Linked DNA regions of Homo sapiens. The protein of the gene in region 2 purifies or fractionates together with the protein of the main gene of each other region. This does not show direct contact. Each region holds a gene or a part of one and is shown on either strand. Other genes may lie near its edges.

What was found.
Region 1: the proteins of CNTN2 (region 2) and CSPG4 purify together in Homo sapiens (affinity purification with mass spectrometry; one large-scale study listed by BioGRID and IntAct). This does not show direct contact.
Region 3: the proteins of CNTN2 (region 2) and RTCA purify together in Homo sapiens (affinity purification with mass spectrometry; one large-scale study listed by BioGRID and IntAct). This does not show direct contact.

Annotation. Positions count from the first base shown.
Region 1 is NC_000015.10:75,710,049-75,714,291, reverse strand, and holds the start of CSPG4 (chondroitin sulfate proteoglycan 4 precursor), read left to right. Parts: upstream 1-1,443; 5' UTR 1,444-1,536; coding exon 1,537-1,624; intron 1,625-4,243. UniProt on the Homo sapiens protein: Proteoglycan playing a role in cell proliferation and migration which stimulates endothelial cells motility during microvascular morphogenesis. May also inhibit neurite outgrowth and growth cone collapse during axon regeneration.
Region 2 is NC_000001.11:205,076,501-205,078,789, forward strand, and holds the end of CNTN2 (contactin-2 precursor), read left to right. Parts: 3' UTR 1-1,789; downstream 1,790-2,289. UniProt on the Homo sapiens protein: In conjunction with another transmembrane protein, CNTNAP2, contributes to the organization of axonal domains at nodes of Ranvier by maintaining voltage-gated potassium channels at the juxtaparanodal region. May be involved in cell adhesion.
Region 3 is NC_000001.11:100,286,716-100,290,215, forward strand, and holds part of RTCA (RNA 3'-terminal phosphate cyclase), read left to right. Parts: intron 1-383; coding exon 384-488; intron 489-3,500.

The DNA.
Region 1 (4,243 bases), on a different chromosome or scaffold from region 2:
CAGGCCCTGGGCTAGGGACTTGAGGTACATTAAAGCATTTAATCCTCATTAACCCAATTTTACAAATGAGGAAACTGCCACAGAGAGGTGAGGGGACTTGTTCAAGGTTTGACAACCAAGTAAGGGAGCTGGGATTTGAACCCAGGTCTCTCTGGTTTCAAGACCAATACTCATAACCCCCACATGGACCAGGCACCATCACACCTGAGCACTGCACTTAGGGTCAAAGACCTGGCCCCACATCTCAGCAGCTATGTAGACTAGCTCCAGTCCCTTAATCTCTCTCAGCCTCAGTTTCTTCATCTGCAAAACAGGTCTCAGTTTCGTTGCAAAGTATGAAGTGCTGGGCTGTTACTGGTCAAAGGGAAGAGCTGGGAAGAGGGTGCAAGGTGGGGTTGGGCTGGAGATGGGCTGGAGCAGATAGATGGAGGGACCTGAATGGAGGAAGTAAACCAAGGCCCGGTAACATTGGGACTGGACAGAGAACACGCAGATCCTCTAGGCACCGGAAGCTAAGTAACATTGCCCTTTCTCCTCCTGTTTGGGACTAGGCTGATGTTGCTGCCTGGAAGGGAGCCAGCAGAAGGGCCCCAGCCTGAAGCTGTTAGGTAGAAGCCAAATCCAGGGCCAGATTTCCAGGAGGCAGCCTCGGGAAGTTGAAACACCCGGATTCAGGGGTCAGGAGGCCTGGGCTTCTGGCACCAAACGGCCAGGGACCTACTTTCCACCTGGAGTCTTGTAAGAGCCACTTTCAGCTTGAGCTGCACTTTCGTCCTCCATGAAATGGGGGAGGGGATGCTCCTCACCCACCTTGCAAGGTTATTTTGAGGCAAATGTCATGGCGGGACTGAGAATTCTTCTGCCCTGCGAGGAAATCCAGACATCTCTCCCTTACAGACAGGGAGACTGAGGTGAGGCCCTTCCAGGCAGAGAAGGTCACTGTTGCAGCCATGGGCAGTGCCCCACAGGACCTCGGGTGGTGCCTCTGGAGTCTGGAGAAGTTCCTAGGGGACCTCCGAGGCAAAGCAGCCCAAAAGCCGCCTGTGAGGGTGGCTGGTGTCTGTCCTTCCTCCTAAGGCTGGAGTGTGCCTGTGGAGGGGTCTCCTGAACTCCCGCAAAGGCAGAAAGGAGGGAAGTAGGGGCTGGGACAGTTCATGCCTCCTCCCTGAGGGGGTCTCCCGGGCTCGGCTCTTGGGGCCAGAGTTCAGGGTGTCTGGGCCTCTCTATGACTTTGTTCTAAGTCTTTAGGGTGGGGCTGGGGTCTGGCCCAGCTGCAAGGGCCCCCTCACCCCTGCCCCAGAGAGGAACAGCCCCGCACGGGCCCTTTAAGAAGGTTGAGGGTGGGGGCAGGTGGGGGAGTCCAAGCCTGAAACCCGAGCGGGCGCGCGGGTCTGCGCCTGCCCCGCCCCCGGAGTTAAGTGCGCGGACACCCGGAGCCGGCCCGCGCCCAGGAGCAGAGCCGCGCTCGCTCCACTCAGCTCCCAGCTCCCAGGACTCCGCTGGCTCCTCGCAAGTCCTGCCGCCCAGCCCGCCGGGATGCAGTCCGGGCCGCGGCCCCCACTTCCAGCCCCCGGCCTGGCCTTGGCTTTGACCCTGACTATGTTGGCCAGACTTGCATCCGCGGGTGAGTGAGGGGCCTGAGACCCCGACCCAGCCTGGCGGAACTAGAGGGGTTCCTCCGGGAGGGAAAAGGGACAGGAGGAGCCAGAAGTGGCCCCCAGATCGGGAGTCAAGCAGGCTGCGCTTCTCCCACCACTAGCTGGGGTCGCCAGGGGTTCAATCCTGGGGCGGACACGGGACCCCGCTATCTCAGGTTATGGGGTTTCTAGCTAGCCAAGGCTGTCCAGTTAGGGGCGGGAGCAGGCGCCCCAGGCATGGATTGCCTAGGGCGTGGCTTTGCCCGTTTGGATTGTCTGAGACACCAGTGGGGCCACCCCAATGCTGGCCGAGCTTTGTTTGCCAGGCAAGTTTGGGGTGAGTATGTTGGGGTCCAAAGGGACCCGGCGACAGTGAGAAGTGGGTCCTCCAGCTTCAGATGCCCTGGGCCAGGAATGGGGAGTGCTACAAGGTGGGAAACGAGGAATGAGCCACCCTGCCCTCCCCTGTGAGGAGCACCCCCACACCCCTCCAGCTGCCCCCCAGCTCTGCCCCTTCTTTCCTCCCCTTGCTTCCTTGCAGATCCGTCTATCTGCCACCTCCCCTCTTCATTCTCTCCTCTCCCTCCTCCTGTTGGTGACAGGCAGGACCCCCCACCCACTACCCACTCTCAGCCTCCTAGAGGGAGAGCTGGTGCCCCTCAGCGGGGCTTGTCCTACAGATAGCTCTGGACCACCCCCTGCCACACCTCCTCATCCCAGCACTGATGCCTGACCCAGCAGAGGCTGAATGGAAGTTCGCTTTCCGAGAAGTGCTGGGATATATCCCCTCTCTGTCCCGATGCCAGAAACCCCAACATGACAGCATTCTTCCTTCAGCGAAGGCAGCTCTAGTTATGCCATAAGAACTGTGGCCTTAGGGCCCATCCATCATCACTACCCACGTGTGATTCAGTGCTTCAGCTACACCTTCGAGATCATTCCCAAGAGCAACATGGAGCAAAGGCAGGGCCTGAGCCTCCTTCACAAGGGCCCAGGCCACACCCTTCTCTCCTTCAGATGGAGAAGCCAGCTCTAAAAGAGGGCATCACATGGTTCCCAGAAGGGAAGTGAGTCAAGGGAGGACCCCCGCGGGGTGAATCAGGGCTGGATCTCCAGGCTCCCTGTTCCTGCAGGGACCAGATCCCCTAAGATCTCAGGGCCTGAGGGATGGGCTGGGCCGCCAGGGAGATGGGAAGGGAGCATCCAAGGTGACCAGGGTGGTCAGCTCATTCAGGCCCCAGCCTCCAGCCAAGGAGGGATTCCAGTACCCCCACCTCCTTGGGCTTCAACTGAGAGCCATTCTCAAATACCTTCTTAGCCCTGACAGCATGCAGGCATGGTGCTAGGCTCGCAGGGGCACGGGAAATTGAGAGGCTGAACTGAGACTCATTCAGGAGGCAGAAAGGCAAATTAAATCTCAAACAGCAAAAATCTGGATGAAAAGTACAGAGGGGAGAAAAGCAGGGGCAAGCTGGGGCAGGACACAGGGTGGGCCTCAAACCAAGCCTTGGTGGATGGGAAGGGAGTCAGTCCTCCAGGCAGGGGCGCTGACTCAGAGGCACCAAGGTGGGCGTAAGCAGAGGGGTGTTGAGACAGGAAGGCCAGCAGCCTGGCTGGGAGGCGTATTTCGAGCACAGGCCAGGGAGAACCACTGGGCTGGGGCACAGAAGCCTTAAATGGCAAAATGAAGCCCACGGCCTTATGCCCTGTTGGCAAAGGAGATGCCACAAGGGTTTTAGGGCAAGAGAGCAGCATGGTGCTGTGGGGTTTTATAAAGTTACACCATCCCCTGCCTTTAGGAGGACTCGGAAATGAGGAGGGGCTGTGAGAGCTCCCGTCCAGCAACCCATCTCTGTCACCACTCCTGGTCCAGCTGCCTGCCCTGATTTCTGCAGTAGGGGCAGCCCCTGCCTGAGGAAGGCGTCCCTCCCACCCCTCCTGGATGCCCCTGGCTGCAAAGGCCCTCGTCCTCCCGTATCCGAATGAGGCGTGCTGGGAGGCTCTCCCTCTACTCATCAACATTTGAGGCATCCAGGTCAGGGGGCCTGGCAGTCAGCACCCTAGAGGCCATCTGGGCCAATCTTCCACTTGTATAGAGAGGGAAACTGAGGCCCCAGAGAGGAAGAAAAGTACTCTGAGTTCCACCAAGAACCCCAGCAGCCCAGGAAGAGCCCCCAGCCCTGCTTCGAGGGTGCTCCCAGCCTGCGTCGGGGCCTAGGCTTGGGCCACTGAGACAGTGTGGGTGACAGATGCGGTGTCCAGCTCCTTCTGAGCTGTATGGGAGGCCCCAGCAGAGAGCCAAGCATTGGGGGAGATTGGATTTGAGCTGATACTGGAAGGACAGGCAGAGAAGGAAGGAGGTGACATTCTAGTCGGGGGGTCACAGTGAGCACAGGGCAGGCAGGGGTGGTGGCTCCCACACCTCTTCCCTGGCATCACTGACTGAAAGGCAGAATGTGAGGGGTTGAAGTGGGACCCAGGTTGGGGAGTACCTGGCAGGGAGGGCTTGTGTGTTACCTGGGTGGGGACTCAGAACTGATGGGGGTATCTTAGTGAGCAGGGCCACAGGGACACCAGGTACAAGAAATTGAAGCAGGGTAGATCCT
Region 2 (2,289 bases):
TGAGACCACAGTTCTGGGTTATCTCCTCTCATACATCAAGCCCCAGAGGAGGCGGCAAGAGGAACAGCCACAAACAAGTACTTTACCCCACAGCTTAGTGGCCAGTAAACACCCTGGGGACTAGGAAAAGGAACCAACTGTAGGCACCTCTCCAGGGCCTAGGGAGACAAGTGTCCTCTCTTCTGCATACATTTGGGCTCCCCTTACAGAGCCCTTTGCCCTGGCTCTCTGGTCCTTGTTGCTCTAACAGTCCAGATGTACACCCAGCCTCAGGGGGAAGGCAGCTCTCTCCAGACAGAGTCTCAGGGCCCAGCAAGGTCAGGTTATCTGCTTTCATTCAGGGCAACAAATGATACAAATGGTGCCAGGGAGTGGCAAGGCCATGGGGGTAGGTGGGGGTGTCTTTTTCTTTTCATAAAGTAACAACAGACGAGACTGAGGTTAAACATCAGAAAAAAACCTCTGGAATGACCTTCCTCATTCCAGGAGGCCCTGGAATAAGGAAGAGGCTTCTTTCTGAGGGAGCTTTGAGGAATTTTGACAGCTGTTGACATGGGATTTGGGAAAGGTGAAGCTGTGACTGGAGGGGCAGGAGATGGTCCAAGTGTCCATCCAGAGATGAGACTCTTAGAATCAAAGTGTTCAGCCCAGGAAGTCTTGGAGATCCCACCTTCTGTGGCCCTGCACCTTATGGGAAGCCATTAAGGGGGCTCATCTAGGAATTCTGGTTACAGCCCAGTGCTCATCCCAGCGTATGCTGCCTCTTTAGGGCAGCCCCAAGGGCCAGCCAGCCTGTACTCTGGGCAAGAGCCCAAAATGGCTAGGAATGTTTGACTCCCTTAATCTCTTCCCCAGCTACAGAGGAATCTTTTCTCTGCCTGGTCTCAGAATGGGACTGCCAACTGGCTCATTGGTGGGAGACACAGTATCCTCAAACCTGTGGCCACTGGCATGACAGTGGTGCTCTGTCTCCCTGGGTGACACCCACCCTAGGCTTCCTCCTGGATGTGATGGGGATTGCCAGAGAGGCTCTTAGCATAAAAGGCATTAGGTGGGCATTTTTCTGTGTGCCCCCAAAAAGCTCCATGGAAACAGGCACCTGGTAGCTGCGGAACACCCGTGGACTTGTGTATATGGTCATAGGCTTTGGGAAGACAGGACGTAAAGGAAAATGAGAGAAACAAAATGGGTCAGATAGCTTTGGCCACAGCCCCAGGCAGCCTTTGGGGCCTATGACACTTAGTGCCCTTAGATGGGATACATCTTGCCTCGGCCCCAAGACTCCTCCAACTTACCCGTCCCATCCAGGGCCTGCACAGCTTAGAGAGGCTCACAGCTTGGCAAATGCTAGGGCTTCATCAGACCACTGACTTGACTCAGTGTTTGTTAAAATGGAACCACTCCCGTTGGCCTACTGTTTCTCTCCTGTACTTCTTGTAATGATAGTTATTTATTGACTCTGGTAGCAGGCAGTTCTTAAATAAAGATGGTTTCTCAACCTGTTGGGGAAGCTGGCACGAGCTGTGGGTGTTATCATCAGGCTAAAGCATACCTCCTTGTCCTGTTCTTCACTCCAGAGGCTTTTATCCAAGAATTTCTTTACCCCCCACACAGTGAAATATAAGTAAGTTACAACATACAGTCTATATTGCTTCATCCAGTCCCAGGAGGAGGGAAAAATTAGGCCAAGATCTTAAGGCAGGTCCAAGCAGAGCACAGGCAGGCATTTGGCTAGAATCAGTTGGCTTTACCTAATACAGTGGCAGTAAACAATGCTTATGTGATGGTACTGCTTCAAGGTGGCCTGATTTTTAAGACATCTTTGAGGTGTTGACTCAGTGGTCCCAAAGGAAAGTCTCCCTGCAGATATATTAATGATACCCAACTGGTGAGAACGAGGCTGCTGCCTCTACTCTTGGTTCACAGCAGCCACAAGGGTGTGAATTACTAGTCACTTTCCAGCCACACTTTCTCACACATTCGATAACCATTTATCAAACTTTTTTTTTTTTGAGACAGAGTTTCGCTCTTGTCGCCCAGGCTGGAGTGCAATGGCATAATCTCAGCTCGCTGCAACCTCTACCTCCTGGGTTCAAGCGATTCTCCTGCTTCAGCCTCCTGAGTAGCTGGGATTATAGGCACCTGCCACCACAACTGGCTAATTTTTGTATTTTCTAGTAGAGACAGGGTTTCACCATGTTGGCCAAGCTGGTCTCCAACTCCTGACCTCAGGTGATCCACCCACTTCGGCCTCCCAAAGTGCTGGGATTATGGGCATGAGCCACGTGC
Region 3 (3,500 bases), about 100 Mb from region 2:
AAACTCCCAGTAAAGTCCCAGTATTAGTCTGTCTATTCAGCTGTTAAAATGTAATTTAAGAGAGTAGAATAAACATCATATTATATATACCAACTTGTAGAGATAGTTGGTCTAAGTATATTACTGTTCTGTATTTTACTTGTAAATATTAATTTAAAAAATTATATGTTGAGAGCTGCTACCAAGCCTTTTTGTACTACTCACAGACTTAGGGTAACATAGGTTTTCTGTCATCTTCTGAGTATGTCTGGAAACCTAAAGAAATAGAAATTCTGTTTTAGCAATTTTTATTTCTAGTAGTATTTTTATTATGGGCAGCAGTGGAATTATAATGCCAAATATTAATAAATGTGTGAGGTTTTTCTTTGTTCTTTTTTAAATAGCTGATTGTTTTCATGGCATTAGCCAATGGAGTTTCCAGAATAAAAACAGGACCAGTTACACTCCATACGCAAACCGCGATACATTTTGCTGAACAAATAGCAAAGGTGAGTATTCTATCAGAAAGGGAAATTGATATTTTGATTTTTATTTTAGCCAATTTTGGGTTAAATTTTAATAGGAAACTTAATAGTAATCATAATTGCTATCACTGTTTCCTGTGTGACAGGCACTGAGCTAATTTAGCAATTTATCTAAACTGTCTACTCAGCATAACTATTGTAGGTGGCTATTTATTATTATTCCCATTATAAATATGAGTAAAGTGAGGCAGAGAGATTCATTAAATTGTTCAAGGCCACATGGATTTTTAGTGGCAGAGCTGAGCTTTGAGCAAACCTGGGAAAGCATACTTCAAAACCCATGTTATAATCACTGTGTGGTACTGCCTTACAGAGTAAGTAAAGATGTTTTGTTGTGAACTATGATATCAAATCACAAGGGATTCATAGTTGGCTATAAAAAAATTTATATAAAATTTTAGACATTTTATTTTCTTGATTCTATTGGTAAAATAGAATATTTGTTGAAACTAATATTCACTGTCCTCTGAAATTTAGTAGAGTTGACGTACAGTTTTTAATGAAGAAGGATTTATCATTATATGAGCTCATATTCATACCTTTCCTACAGGATTCTTTTTTTTTTTTTTTTTGAGACAGGGTCTCACACTGTTGCCCAGGCTGGAGTGCAATGGCATGATCTCGGCTCACTGCAACTTCTGCCTCCCAGGCTCAAGTGATTCTCCTGCCTTAGCCTCCCAAGTAGCTAGGATTACAGGCACATGCCACCACACCTGGCTAATTTTTCTAATTTTTGTAGAGATGGGGTTTTGCCATGTTGCTTAGGCTGGTCTCAAACTTCATAGCTCAGGTGATCTGTCCACCTTGGCCTCCCAAAGTGTTGTGATTATAGGTGTGAGCCACTGTGCCTGGCCTGGATTGTTAATTTAAAGAAACAATAGGTATATTTCATCATGAAACTAATGTAATTTCTTTATAGGAAATAGAGGGGAAAAGCCTTCTCATAATTTCCCCTTGCCGGTAAAACCACTGTTGACATTTAGGTGTTTTCCTCTTCTCCTAAATCGTTTCTCTTTGCATTTTTTGCAGTTAATGCATACAACTTCATTTCTTGCTTATTTCAGTAACATGTAGCATATTTCCCATTTTGCTTATTCTTTATAAAGTAATTTTATAAAGAAATATAAAATTTGTAACAATTTTATAAGGGAAGTTGCTAATCTTAAGCATTTTTATTATTATTGTTTTTGAGACAGGGTCTCACACTGTTGCCCAGGCTGGATTGCAGTGGCACAAACCTCCTGGGCTCTCAAATGATCCTCCCACCGCAGCCTCCCAAGTAGCTGGGGCTACGGGAGTGTGCCACCACACCTGGCTAATTTTTTGATGTTTTGTAGAGATGGAGTCTTGCCACATTCCCAGGCTGGTCTTGAACTCCTGGGCTCAAGCAGTCCTCTGACCTCAATCTCCCAAAGCGCTAGGATTACAGGTGTAAGCCAGCATGCCCAGCCCTAGTCTTAAGCATTTTTTAAAGTGACAAAAGTAACATATATTAATTTAAAAAATTAATCATTACAGAAGTGTCCCATACACAAAACCACTGTTGCTGCCCTACTCCTATTTGTATGATGATCCTTTTTCTTTTCTTTTTTTTTTTCTTAAGATAGAGTCTTGCTCTGTTAGCCCAGGTTGGAGTGCAGTGGCACAGTCTTGGCTCACAGCAACCTCTGCCTCCCAGGTTCAAGCAATTCTCATGCCTCAGCCTCCAGAGTAGCTGGGATTACAGGCGTGTGCCACCATGTCCAGCTAATTTTTGTACTTTTTAGCAGAGACAGGGTTTCACTGTGTTAGCTAGGCTGGTCTCAAACTCCTGGCCTTACGCGATCTGCCTGCCTTGGCCTCCCAAAGTGCAGGGATTACAGGCATGAGCCACCGCGCCTGGCCTTTCTTTTTTTTTTTTCTTTTAAGAGACAGGGGCTTGCTCTGTTGCCCAGGCTAGATTACAATGGCAGTATCATAGCTCACAGTAGCCCCGAACTCCTGGGCTCAAGTGATCCTTTCACCTCAGCCTATCAAGTAGCTAGGACTGCAGCTGTGCACCACCACACCCTGCTAATTTTTTTTTTGTTTTTGTTTTTGTTTTTTGAGAGACGGGATCTCCCTGTGTTGCCCAGGCTGGTCCTGAACTCCTGGGCTCAAGTGATCCTCCCACCTCAGCTTCCCAAATGCCGTGATTACAGCTGTGAGCTACTGTGCCCAGTTTGATTCTTAATTATGTATACTTTTAATTGTTATTAAGAAACATAGATAAGTTTTTGTTAAATTGTAGGAAAGACTGATGGGAATTAAAGGCAAATTGTATTTGATGTCAAGAGTGTTAACTCTATTTTTTTTGTTACTCTACTTATGCTGTATTTATAACTATTACTTGTCTGTCTCTCCTTATAGATTGATCTCCTTAATAGCAGAGATCAGGTTTTATTCATTATATTCTTTACTTTTCACAGTACTTTACATATAGTAGATGCTTACTTGTTATTTGAAATGTATACATAACGGAAAGTGCTATGAACCTGTGTATAGCTTGTATCTTGGTCAGCTTTGTTGTGTATAACTGGGTGACTTGGGGCAAGTTTCTTATCTTTCTTTGTCTCAATGCAAATAGTTATCTGTAAAATCAGACTTAAGCTAGATAGGCCTGCTATGCTCCTTTCAGGTCTACATATTTGTAGTTTTAAGTAGGTTTATGTATAGGCTAGAAATGATTTTCATAGCTGCTACGTGTGTTTCATATTTACATAATGCTTGTAATTTGAAAAATATATAAACGCATGCATATATTACTAATTAATTAATATGGTTACCTAGCTCAGAATTCAGCATTTATTCATTCAACAGTAATTTCAAGTGTCCACTCTGTGTCAGTACATTACCATGTAATGCTGAAAGTGAAAGAATTTTTAAACATTACTATTCATTCAGTAAGGCCCCCAAGTGATGGTTTTCAAATTGTGCTTCCAAGAATCCTAAGATTTT